3 linked regions of the Homo sapiens genome follow. The protein of the gene in region 2 purifies or fractionates together with the protein of the main gene of each other region. This does not show direct contact. Each region holds a gene or a part of one and is shown on either strand. Other genes may lie near its edges. The genes, in order: LIN28B, ERI1 and C1orf174.

What was found.
Region 1: the proteins of ERI1 (region 2) and LIN28B purify together in Homo sapiens (co-immunoprecipitation; one large-scale study listed by IntAct). This does not show direct contact.
Region 3: the proteins of ERI1 (region 2) and C1orf174 purify together in Homo sapiens (co-immunoprecipitation; one large-scale study listed by IntAct). This does not show direct contact.

Annotation. Positions count from the first base shown.
Region 1 is NC_000006.12:104,963,570-104,967,301, forward strand, and holds part of LIN28B (protein lin-28 homolog B), read left to right. Parts: intron 1-3,732. UniProt on the Homo sapiens protein: Suppressor of microRNA (miRNA) biogenesis, including that of let-7 and possibly of miR107, miR-143 and miR-200c.
Region 2 is NC_000008.11:9,030,368-9,033,838, forward strand, and holds the end of ERI1 (3'-5' exoribonuclease 1), read left to right. Parts: 3' UTR 1-2,181; coding exon of another isoform or gene 2,182-2,244; 3' UTR 2,245-2,971; downstream 2,972-3,471. UniProt on the Homo sapiens protein: RNA exonuclease that binds to the 3'-end of histone mRNAs and degrades them, suggesting that it plays an essential role in histone mRNA decay after replication.
Region 3 is NC_000001.11:3,890,273-3,894,004, reverse strand, and holds part of C1orf174 (UPF0688 protein C1orf174), read left to right. Parts: intron 1-1,008; coding exon 1,009-1,122; exon of another isoform or gene 1,123-1,256; coding exon of another isoform or gene 1,257-1,264; intron 1,265-2,225; coding exon of another isoform or gene 2,226-2,379; intron 2,380-2,947; coding exon 2,948-3,436; intron 3,437-3,732.

The sequences.
Region 1 (3,732 bases), on a different chromosome or scaffold from region 2:
CTCCTGCCTTTTTAAAGAGCAGTTTTAGGTTCACAGCAAAATTAAGAGGAAAATACATAGATTTTTCCATGTACCCTTGCCCCTTCAAATGCATAGCATCCTCCATTATCAACATCCCCTACCAAGAGTGGCACATTTGTTTCAATTAATGAATGTACATTGACACATCATAATCACACAGAGTCCATAGTTTATATTAGTGTTAGCCTTTGGTGTTGCATGTTCTCGCTAATTTTCAATTCCTCTTTTATTTTAAAAGACTATTCACAACAAATGAATGCAGTAAATCAAAGAATAATTTTTTAAATAAAAATATGAGTGTCAAACCACTTACAAGTATTCAGTGTAACCTTTTAAAGCATGTCTTTAACTTATCTTAGAGTTCTTAGGTTTCATGAGAAATTAAAAGCTTATTTGTTATCTGCGTTCACCTTGGTAGATTAAAAATTGAGTCCTTCACTGTAATTTTTGTCGCTTTCAGGCAGCAACAAAACATTATTTGGATTTGGTTTAATTCTTCCTATTCAGAGATAGTTAGAAATATTACAGATAGTTATGTCTATTTTAACCGAGCAGCTCTTTTGGTTTGTGATTAACTTAAAAGTTGCTACTTAAAAATAAGATGCACTGTGTTGTTTTTGTTTTTTTGAGACTAAGTTACCCAGGCTGACCTGGAACTCCTAGCTAGTCTCAAGAGATACTCCCTCCTCAGCCTCCCTAATAGCTGTGACTACAGGCATGCACCACTGTGTCCAGCTTGATGTACTATATTCTTACTTCTAAACTGAGAATAACCTAAACAAAGTGAAGATACTTCTGATCAATTAAACTGGAAAGTTATCTTAAATGTTATATTCTATAGACTTGATTTGGAATGAAATATGGGATATTTTATCATTATCAAAGACTATCAGTTCTTTATACTTTGAGCTATTTCCCCTGAGTTTTGAGTAACAGGAAGTTCAGCTTATTTAATACATAGTTACAATAGATGGCATTGTACCATATACAATGCATAAGAAATTCAACTGATTTATATTCCTCCCTAAAATAATTGATTATAGCATCTTCTAATATCATAAAAGTTGATAACAGTAATGTGTTTAAGAAAGTACATTGCAGGTCAGTGGGGTACATTTAAAAATGATCTTTTAATGAGTAGTTTATCAAACAAGTAATGAAAGTACCATGTTGCATTTTGATACATCAGGATACATCTAATCATTTATCTCAAATTGGAGGACAGTCTGATTATTGCTTCTTCTTTTCCAATATCTAAATATTTGACAATTTGGAAATATTTTCTAAATAAGATTTACAAATAATTGATAGATTTAGTGTTATAATTTTTTCTATAATTTTCTGTTACCTGGAGTAATACCTAACTTTTAAAGTTGTTTTGAAGAGTAGAGGTAATGTTATATAACTGCCTAGTAAGTGTCTGTTGAGAAAATAAACTAATGTAAACTGGTCTTTGCCAAAAGAATAATGGATAAGTTATTTTCAGTGGTGTATACTCATGGTGGATAATTAAGCTGGTCTTTTATGTGCTTTCTTTAAAATTGGCCAAAATGTGTTGTATATTAATAGTTTAATTTCCATTACAGTTGATGTTAAGGCTTTTCATTATAGTTTTGTGGCATTGAATATTGTTTTTGTTATTTAAAATAATTCTTTTGGCTGAGCATGGTGGCTCATGCCTGTAATCCCAGCACTTTGGGAGGCTGAGGCTGGCAGATTGAGCCCAGGAGTTTTAGACCAGCCTGGGTAACATGGCAAAACTCCGTCCCTACCAAAAAAATTAGCTAGGCCTGATGGCATGCACCTGTGGTCCCAAATATCAGGGAGCCTGAGGTAAAAGGATCACTTCTTGAGCCCAGGAGACAGAGGCCACAATGAGCTGAGATCACTCCATTGCACTCCAGTCTGGACGACAGAGCAAGATGGTCTCTAAAATTATTATTTTTTTTGAGATCTGGTCTCACTCTGTTGCCTAGGCTAGAGTGCAGTGGCAGGATCATAGCTTACTGAAGCCTTGACTTCCTGGGCTCAAGTGATCCTCCTGCCTTGGCCTCCCAAAGTCCTGGGATTACAGGCATGAGCAACAGTGCCAGGCCTAGAATATTGTTTAAAGTATCAGGGTGTAAACTGCAGCTTGGAAATATTTTTGTTATGCAGATATTTTGGTTTTAATAATTGTTGTAACATAAGATTTTACCTGTGTAAGATTTTACCTGTGTACATATGCATGTGTATTCATTATAAGCTAAAGAAAAAATACTGTTTTAAATAGGCCTGTTGTGATAATTTAATACCATTTTTTGGTTAATAATTATTTAATCTTTGTAAGATAGTATAGAATGATAAAGATTCTGGTCAAATCAGTATTCAAATCCCAGTTTATTAGATACCTGTAAGGGAAGTAAGTTACCTTGTCAGTGTCTCAATGGCCTATAAATCGGAGGACAAAAATAGTACCCACTTTGTATAGGGCTGTTAGGAGGATTACATGTTATTACATATGTAAAGCACCTAACACAAACTTGGCAGATAGTAGGGACTCAATGTGTGTTGTACATAATTAGTATTATAAAGGAGAAGTAGTGTGGTATTGTGAGAAAAAAAACCATGGGAATGAGTGTTTGGCTTCGGCTCTGCCAGTTGGTTGGTTTATAACTTTTGGCTGGTCACTTCCAGGGAGCTTCAGTGTTCTTATGGGTAAAATGTGATAAATAATATTTTTCATCTTTATTTTAGAGGGTTATGGTAAGGGTCAATTGAAATAATACACATGAAAATAATTTAAAAACTGTAACAATCTCAGGTTTTAGTTTTTATCTTTTTTTCAAGAGCTATGTTTTTATTAATCATTTTAATTATAAGAGTTTTTCTGGTTTTTGTTTTGAGACAGAGTATTGCTCTTGCTCAGGCTGGAGTGCAGTGGTGGGATCATGGCTCACTGCAACCTCAAACTCCTGACTCAAGCAATTATCCCACCTGAGCCTTCTGAGATGCTGGGATTCTAGGTGTGCATCACCATGCCCGGCTGATTTTTTTTTTTTTTTTTTTTGAGACAGAGTCTCGCTACATTGCCCAGGCTGGAGTGCAGTGGTGCTGTATCGGCTCACTGCAAGCTCCGCCTCCCAGGTTCACGCCATTCTCCTGCCTCAGCCTCCAGAGTAGCTGTGACTACAGGCACTCGCCACCACGCCCGGCTAATTTTTTGTATTTTTAGTAGAGATGGGGTTTCACCGAGTTAGCCAGGATGGTCTCAATCTCCTGACGTTGTGATCCGCCCACTTCGGCCTCCCAAAGTGCTGGGATTACAGGCGTGAGCCACCGCGCCCAACCTCTGGCTGATATTTTTTATTATATTTGTAGAGACGGGGTCTCCCCATGTTGCCCAGGCTGGTCTTGAACTCCTGGGCTCAAGGGATCCTCCCACCTCAGCCTGCCAAAGTTACAGAGATTTACAGGCGTGAATCACCATGCCTGGCCTCACTCTGGTTTTCTTTAGTTTTTTTTTCTACCTGGAAATTAACCTTTATCCTAGTAGTGTCTGTGCTTGTTAATGAGATTAATTCATATGCATTTTACTAATCTTCAATATAATATTAATTTCATTTATCATTATGGTATTTTCTCATGTGCTGTAAACTCACCACTTACTTAAAGGGCATAATTAGGCTTATTGATGTTCATATGTCTTGTCAGAAATTTATTGAATTGGCT
Region 2 (3,471 bases):
TACTGGTGTTTAAATATGTAATGTGTTTCTTTATTAACATCACTAGATGAAACCATATCTTAAAATGCAGAAATGATTGGAAGGTAGATCTTATCTAGCCTTTGGATTTCAAGAATATCATAGTCCTTTTGATTTTCAAAGTTTATATGTGAAGTTCACCATGTATGTGGTGAATTTCGTAAGGTACTTGGTATACATATCTGCCTATGTTTCTTTTCAACTCATAATTGGAAGAATTATGATGGATTATAGGGTTTGGTTAAAAATCCAGTTACTGAAGGAATTAATGAAAACGTAGAAGAAAGTACTAAAAGGAATATCATAAGGGCTGTAGCTCAAACTTCATAATACATAAATCACTGGGGTCTTTTTGGATTTGGTTGTTTGATTCGCCTTCCTTTTTTGACATATGTATGCCTTAATTCTTAAATCTGAGGGACCATGCTTTGAAATAGACTGAAAATTAAGGGTCACCACCTAATTTTACTTTGTATTCAGTATCGTAAGTGAGGTTAATAAAGTCAATACTTTCTACCATATATTACGTTTTTGTTATTAAAAAACTTCATTGGCCACTAGTGAAGTTAGTCAATAAAAGACTTGTTTTTCTGATTTTACATAGTAAATGGCTGCTAAGTATTGAGTAATTCTTAACTAATTCTAAAAACTAAAATGTGCATTTCGACTTGATAAGGTAAAACTCTTATCTAGAGGCTAAACCCATGTATTTTCAGAATTGAATTTTTCTCCTTGTAGCTTTCAGGGAACAATTTCATTGACATTGCTTGCTTCCTGCCTTTTACCTTTTAATAAAAATTGTGATGCTACTTTATTCTAAAGATTTATATTTTATAACCAGATGAATTTCCTCAAAGGTTTCCAAACCTATATCATATAGGGTGAAAAGCAGGAAAGTAGACATTTTTCTTGGCGTGGGAATTCTCTACATAGGGCAGTAGATTTCTTAAGCCAATGAATTTCTGCTTTTCAGCAGTAGTCATATAATCAGTATCATAAAGAATAATGTGTAAATAACAGAAGGCATATGAGAGTGTGGTGTTCCTAGATGAACTGTTACAGATTATAGTAAAATAAGGAAATCTAAGTGCTTTAAGTTTATACAGTTAACTCTTAGGATAAGAGGGATGTATGCTGAGATGTTTGTGCATCCCAGATAGCACTGTACAATAACCTGTAAAGTATTACTGAATACTGAATAGCTGAAACTGCAATTGGAAAATCTGATGATGACGAGGAAATATTACGTTTCCAGTTTTTTTAGCTCTATCTGCTAATTTCTTTGCCTGTTTTCACTTTCGCCAAGTACCAACAAGCTCATGTTGTATTTCTTTTTAAGAACTTCAACATTATAAGCTCTCAGTACCCTATTTTGTTGTTGTTGTTGTTTGAGACAGAGTTTTTGCTCGTCTGCCAGGATGGAGTGCAGTGGTGCGATCTTGGCTCACTGCAACCTCCGCCTCCTGGGCTCAGGTGATCCTCTTGCCTCAGCCTCCTGAGTAGCTCAGATTACAGGCGCGTGCCACCACACCCGCCTAATTTTTGTATTTTTGGTAGAGGCGGGGTTTCACCATGTTGGTCAGGCTGGTCTTGAACTCCTGACCTCAAGTGATTTGCCCACCTTGACCTCCTACAGACGTGAGCCACTGCGCTCAGCCATAGATTTTACTGTCTTAACCCATTTTAATTCCTCTGTTGAGTCTCTGTCCTCCCCTCCAATTTGATTTGGGATTTTGCTGATGAGATGATACTAAACATTGAGAGTACTGCTTTTTACTCTGACTTTTATTGTGTTGTCTTTGAAAGACAAATAGTACAACTTTTTACAAGGAAACACGTAAGAGATGGATGTCCATGAAAACAATATTAGTATATTCTATTATTGTTTCTTATTAATAGTTACTTAGTATTTACAAACAATTTATTATTAGCTGTGTTAACTTTTATTCTATGCTTCATATGCTCTGACATTGACATAGTGGATTTCTGCTGATTTTTTTCAAATCCGCAATCTTTATAACCAACTGAAGTATATAATAGAGCATTACATTTTATCTTTATTTGTGTTCTGTTGGATCAAGTATTTAACATTTGCTCTGAAAAAAATGTTTTTGTGATGTGTCTTTGTTGCCTTGAGATAGATCCATTTATCCTGCCTCCTAGGGAGAAGTTTCTGCCTGGATTGAAACAAAAAAACACAGGCGTCACAAGCATGTTACCTATTAAGAGAGAGAGGGTATCTCTGAAGACTAATTAAAATGGTAATTTTTAAAAAGATGTGACCAGTTGACTTTTAGTATATCATCCCAAGTATTATCCCCAAAATGATAATGCAAAACAGAATAATTTGGAGACCAGGAGAAAAACTGGTATGATTACTGGGGAGGGGAAGAAGCACAGGTGGTCAAGATAATAATGCATGTTTGGCCTCAGCTGTAGTTGCCAAAGAAACTACCTGCCTCACAGATGAGCACGCACGGGTGCATTGTCAAAGTCTGAGAAGGATGTATTGTACTTTGAAGGAAGACTTTCCATTTCTAAGCTACCATGGAGAAGTATATGCTCCTCGAGACCAGAGACTGTGACTTCTGCATCTTTGATTCCAGCGACATATGATAAAATGTTTTGCACATAGTTGAATCCAGCGTTGATACATGAAGGACAGCATTACATCTTTTTTCTATTATACTTAGAAATTTCCTCTTTGTTCTGCACCACCAACCTGTATATCAAGCCTCCTTGCCCCACAAAGCTTCCAAAGCCCGTAAATTTGTTAATCTAGAGCAGGGGTCAGCAAACTACCACCCATGGGCCAAATCTGGCTGCTGCCTATTTTTGTATGGCCTACAAACTATGGTTTTTATATTCCCTTTTGTTAATGGCTCAAAATAATATTTTGTATAATACGAAAATTACGAAATTTTAGTTTCTCTAAATAAAGTTTTGGAAAGAACTACCATTCTCATTTGTTTTCATGTCATCTCTGACCACTTTTGTGCTACAATGGCAGAGTTGAATAGCTGCATCAGTGGCACCATCTGGCCAGCAAGGCCAAAAAATACTACTGTCTGGCCCTTTATGGAGAAAGTTTGCCTACCCTTACCTCCCTTATGTAATGCAATATATAAGTTCCATCAACAAACAAGAAATGCGACTGTGATGAGAGCGTAGAGCTGAATGTTAAGGTACAATGATACTTGCATCAGACATTTATGGAGCACTGTTAAGTACTTTACTCCATTGTTTAGTAAGAATCTGGTGATGGAGAGAGGCATTCTCTGCAGTTTACAGATGGGAAAGTTGAGGTCCAGAGCGGTTAAGTTGCCAAAGTTTAAGTAGTGGGAGCTGTAGATTCTGGCAGTATGGCTTGAGCCTTGCTCTTTATCTCTGTGCTATGCTGCCTCCCGTTGTAGACTTTGGCTTAACCTGATATTCCAGGAACAGGTAGGTTGT
Region 3 (3,732 bases), on a different chromosome or scaffold from region 2:
CACTAATTTCTTAATGTTGACAATGTCCTGTAGTTGTTTAACATTAGTGGAAGCTGAGTGAAGGCTACATGGCAACTCCCTGTACTATTTTATTATTATTATTTTTTCAGAGACACTGTCTCACTCTGTCACCCAGGTGGAGTGCAGTGGTGCAGTCATAGCTCACTACAGCCTCAGACTCCTGGGATCAAGTGATCCTCTCACCTCAGCCTCCCACATAGCTGGGACTACAGGTGCACACCACCACACCTGGCTAATTTTTAAAAAAATTTTTTAAAGATGGGCTTTCGCTGTATTGCCCAGGCTGGTCTTGAACTCCTGGGCTCGAGCGATCCTCCTACCTCAGCTTCCCAAGTAGCTGGGATTACAGGTGTGAGCTATCACACCAGTTTCTTTGTACTATTTTTTGCAACTTTCTGAATGCCGAAAATTATTCCTAAATAGTTATTTTAAATGTTATGTCTTTAATTAATTTCTTTCTTGTTATTAGAGGAGTTTGCTTTGCATTCAGGATAAAAGAGAGGTGGACCAGTTTGTTAATATTAAAATTTGTGAGACAGTCGCTAGCTGCATTCAGCTAATAGAATAGGAGTCTAATTTGAGGAAGAGAAACTTTGGTTTCCTCATGTTACCTTTTTTTAAAAACTTTGACAACGTATGAAAGTTGGAGAGCCTTCTAAGGAAGGGCATGTGCTGCTTATTCTAAACACTTTGAAGTTGACTTAATTTCCACTAAAGGACAAATGGTGGCTACTAGAAATATACAAGATAAGGGGGACAGATCGTCCCAAGCCTCCAAAATCGTGGAAATAGTAGATCCTGTATCCTAAATCCAGGCACAGTTTCATTTGGATTTACACATTCGGGCCACAGCTGTCTCCACAAAGATGATAAAATCCTGGGAGTGGGAGGGGCGGTCTTCGGGTGTTCTTTAGGTGGGAAATTCTCGTCTACATGTTCATGCTGCCTTCCTGAGAGCACTCTCTGAGTGGCTCTCAATCTCTCTAGCTCACAGGTGCAGTGCGGTCTTCAGCGCGCTTGAAAGCACGAAGTTGTTCGGCAGCCAGGTTGGCCTCTGCCCAGGAAGTTGCTGGTTCCACGTCTGCCAAGACAGCATGTCTGGTGAGCCCTGTTACCGTGGAGAACGCCAAGATCCTGACTCGAGGGTCCATTTTTATACAAAATTGCCACTCCAAGATGTGTTGCTTTAGAAAAATATCGACTGTTACTTATCTGCCAGAGGGGGACTATTGCAGATGAAAAGGTGACAGCACTGTAATTGCCTTCAGAGAAAGACACACTCTGCAGGCCAGGGCTGGCTCTCCTAGCACCCGCCCACCCGTGTGTGTGTCTAGACCCGGGCTCTGATCCTAGCACCCGCCCACCCGTGTGTGTGTCTAGACCCGGGCCCTGATCCTAGCACCCGCCCACCCGTGTGTGTGTCTAGACCCGGGCCCTGATCCTAGCACCCTCCCACCCGTGTGTGTGTCTAGACCCGGGCCCTGATCCTAGCACCCTCCCACCCGTGTGTGTGTCTAGACCCGGGCCCTGATCCTAGCACCCGCCCACCCGTGTGTGTGTCTAGACCCGGGCCCTGATCCTAGCACCCGCCCACCCGTGTGTGTGTCTAGACCCGGGCCCTGATCCTAGCACCCGCCCACCCGTGTGTGTGTCTAGACCCGGGCCCTGATCCTAGCACCCGCCCACCCGTGTGTGTGTCTAGACCCGGGCCCTGATCCTAGCACCCGCCCACCCGTGTGTGTGTCTAGACCCGGGCCCTGATCCTAGCACCCGCCCACCCGTGTGTGTGTCTAGACCCGGGCCCTGATCCTAGCACCCGCCCACCCGTGTGTGTGTCTAGACCCGGGCCCTGATCCTAGCACCCGCCCACCCGTGTGTGTGTCTAGACCCGGGCCCTGATCCTAGCACCCGCCCACCCGTGTGTGTGTCTAGACCCGGGCCCTGATCCTAGCACCCGCCCACCCGTGTGTGTGTCTAGACCCGGGCCCTGATCCTAGCACCCGCCCACCCGTGTGTGTGTCTAGACCCGGGCTCTGATCCTAGCACCCGCCCACCCGTGTGTGTGTCTAGACCCGGGCCCTGATCCTAGCACCCTCCCACCCGTGTGTGTGTCTAGACCCGGGCTCTGATCCTAGCACCTGCCCACCCGTGTGTGTGTCTAAACCAGGCTCTGAGGCCACTTGTGCTCATCGCTCTGCTCTTAGCGTGCTATGGAGTCATGCTGGCCCATTGCCGTGCAGCCTCACCGCCAGAGGCTTGAAGAGAAAGGCAGAGTGGGTGGGGAAAGGAATCTCATGCCGTCTGCCGTTCACCCTAGCCCAGCCATCGATTCCGAGGAGCGAGTTCCTGAACTTACCGGTGAAGTAGAGCCGCTTCACGGAGCCTACAGTTGAGGGGTTAGGACTTGGCCATATGCCAGCGTGTAGCACAGAGCTTTGCTCATGATGAGGTGCTTGGTAAAATTTTGTCGAAGTCAATTTCACAAATATTTCTTGAGCACCTACTGTGTGCCAGGCACTAATTGGTGAATAAAGCAAAGACCCCTGCCTTCACAGAGCTTATGCCCTAGCAGAAATGAATGAAAGCTGGATTCTTTTACTGTAATTGTATAATATATAAATATATGCTTCAGAATTCACCTGAGGAGCTGTAACGCCACTAGGGGAAACTGAAAGTGTAGGAGTGGTGTGGAGCTGTAACGCCACTAGGGAAAACTGAAAGTGTAGGAGTGGTGTGGGGTGTGTCTAGATTCAGTCTCGCTTGTATTTTGTCCCTTGGTGGCAAAACAGTGAAATGACGATCTGTGAAAGTTGTGGTCACAGCATCTTTATCATTTCCGATGTGAGAAGAAATACTAGCCTCTGGATTGAGGCCTGTTTTATTTGCTAGATATGTCTGGTTCCCCTTACATTTTTTTTCTTGACAGACTTCCTCATCCCACAAAGCCACAGACACGCGAACGTCCAAGAAGTTCAAATGTGACAAAGGACATCTTGTGAAGTCAGAATTACAGAAGCTTGTCCCTAAGAATGACAGCGCTTCTTTGCCAAAAGTGACACCTGAGACCCCTTGTGAAAATGAGTTTGCTGAAGGCAGTGCCTTGCTTCCAGGCAGCGAGGCTGGCGTTTCTGTGCAGCAGGGGGCTGCAAGTCTTCCTCTCGGTGGCTGCAGAGTTGTGAGTGACTCTCGCTTAGCAAAGACTAGAGATGGCCTGTCCGTGCCAAAACACAGTGCCGGGTCCGGAGCAGAAGAATCCAACAGCAGCTCCACTGTGCAGAAGCAGAATGAGCCAGGGCTACAGACAGAGGATGTGCAGAAGCCACCACTTCAGATGGACAACAGCGTCTTTCTAGATGACGACAGCAATCAGCCAATGCCCGTGAGCCGGTTCTTTGGAAACGTTGAGCTCATGCAGGTAAGAGCGGCGCCTTCCTCCTCCCGTGGGTACTCAGGCAGCAGCTGCACATTCAGGTCACACACTCCCCACTCAGTGCAGGTAAATAATGCCTCGACACAACATTAAACATAAACTAATCATTTTAACCCACGAGGAGAAAATGAAACCGTTGGCTAATTGGGGGCTCTCCCTGCATCTCCCGAGCTGAGAATCACTGCTCTCGGGAAAGGTGTGTTTCCATGAAATCAGGTTTGTGGTTTTTTTGAACATCCACCCCGCGCTTGCTGTTAATTTCTTTTGTTTTGAACCCAGCA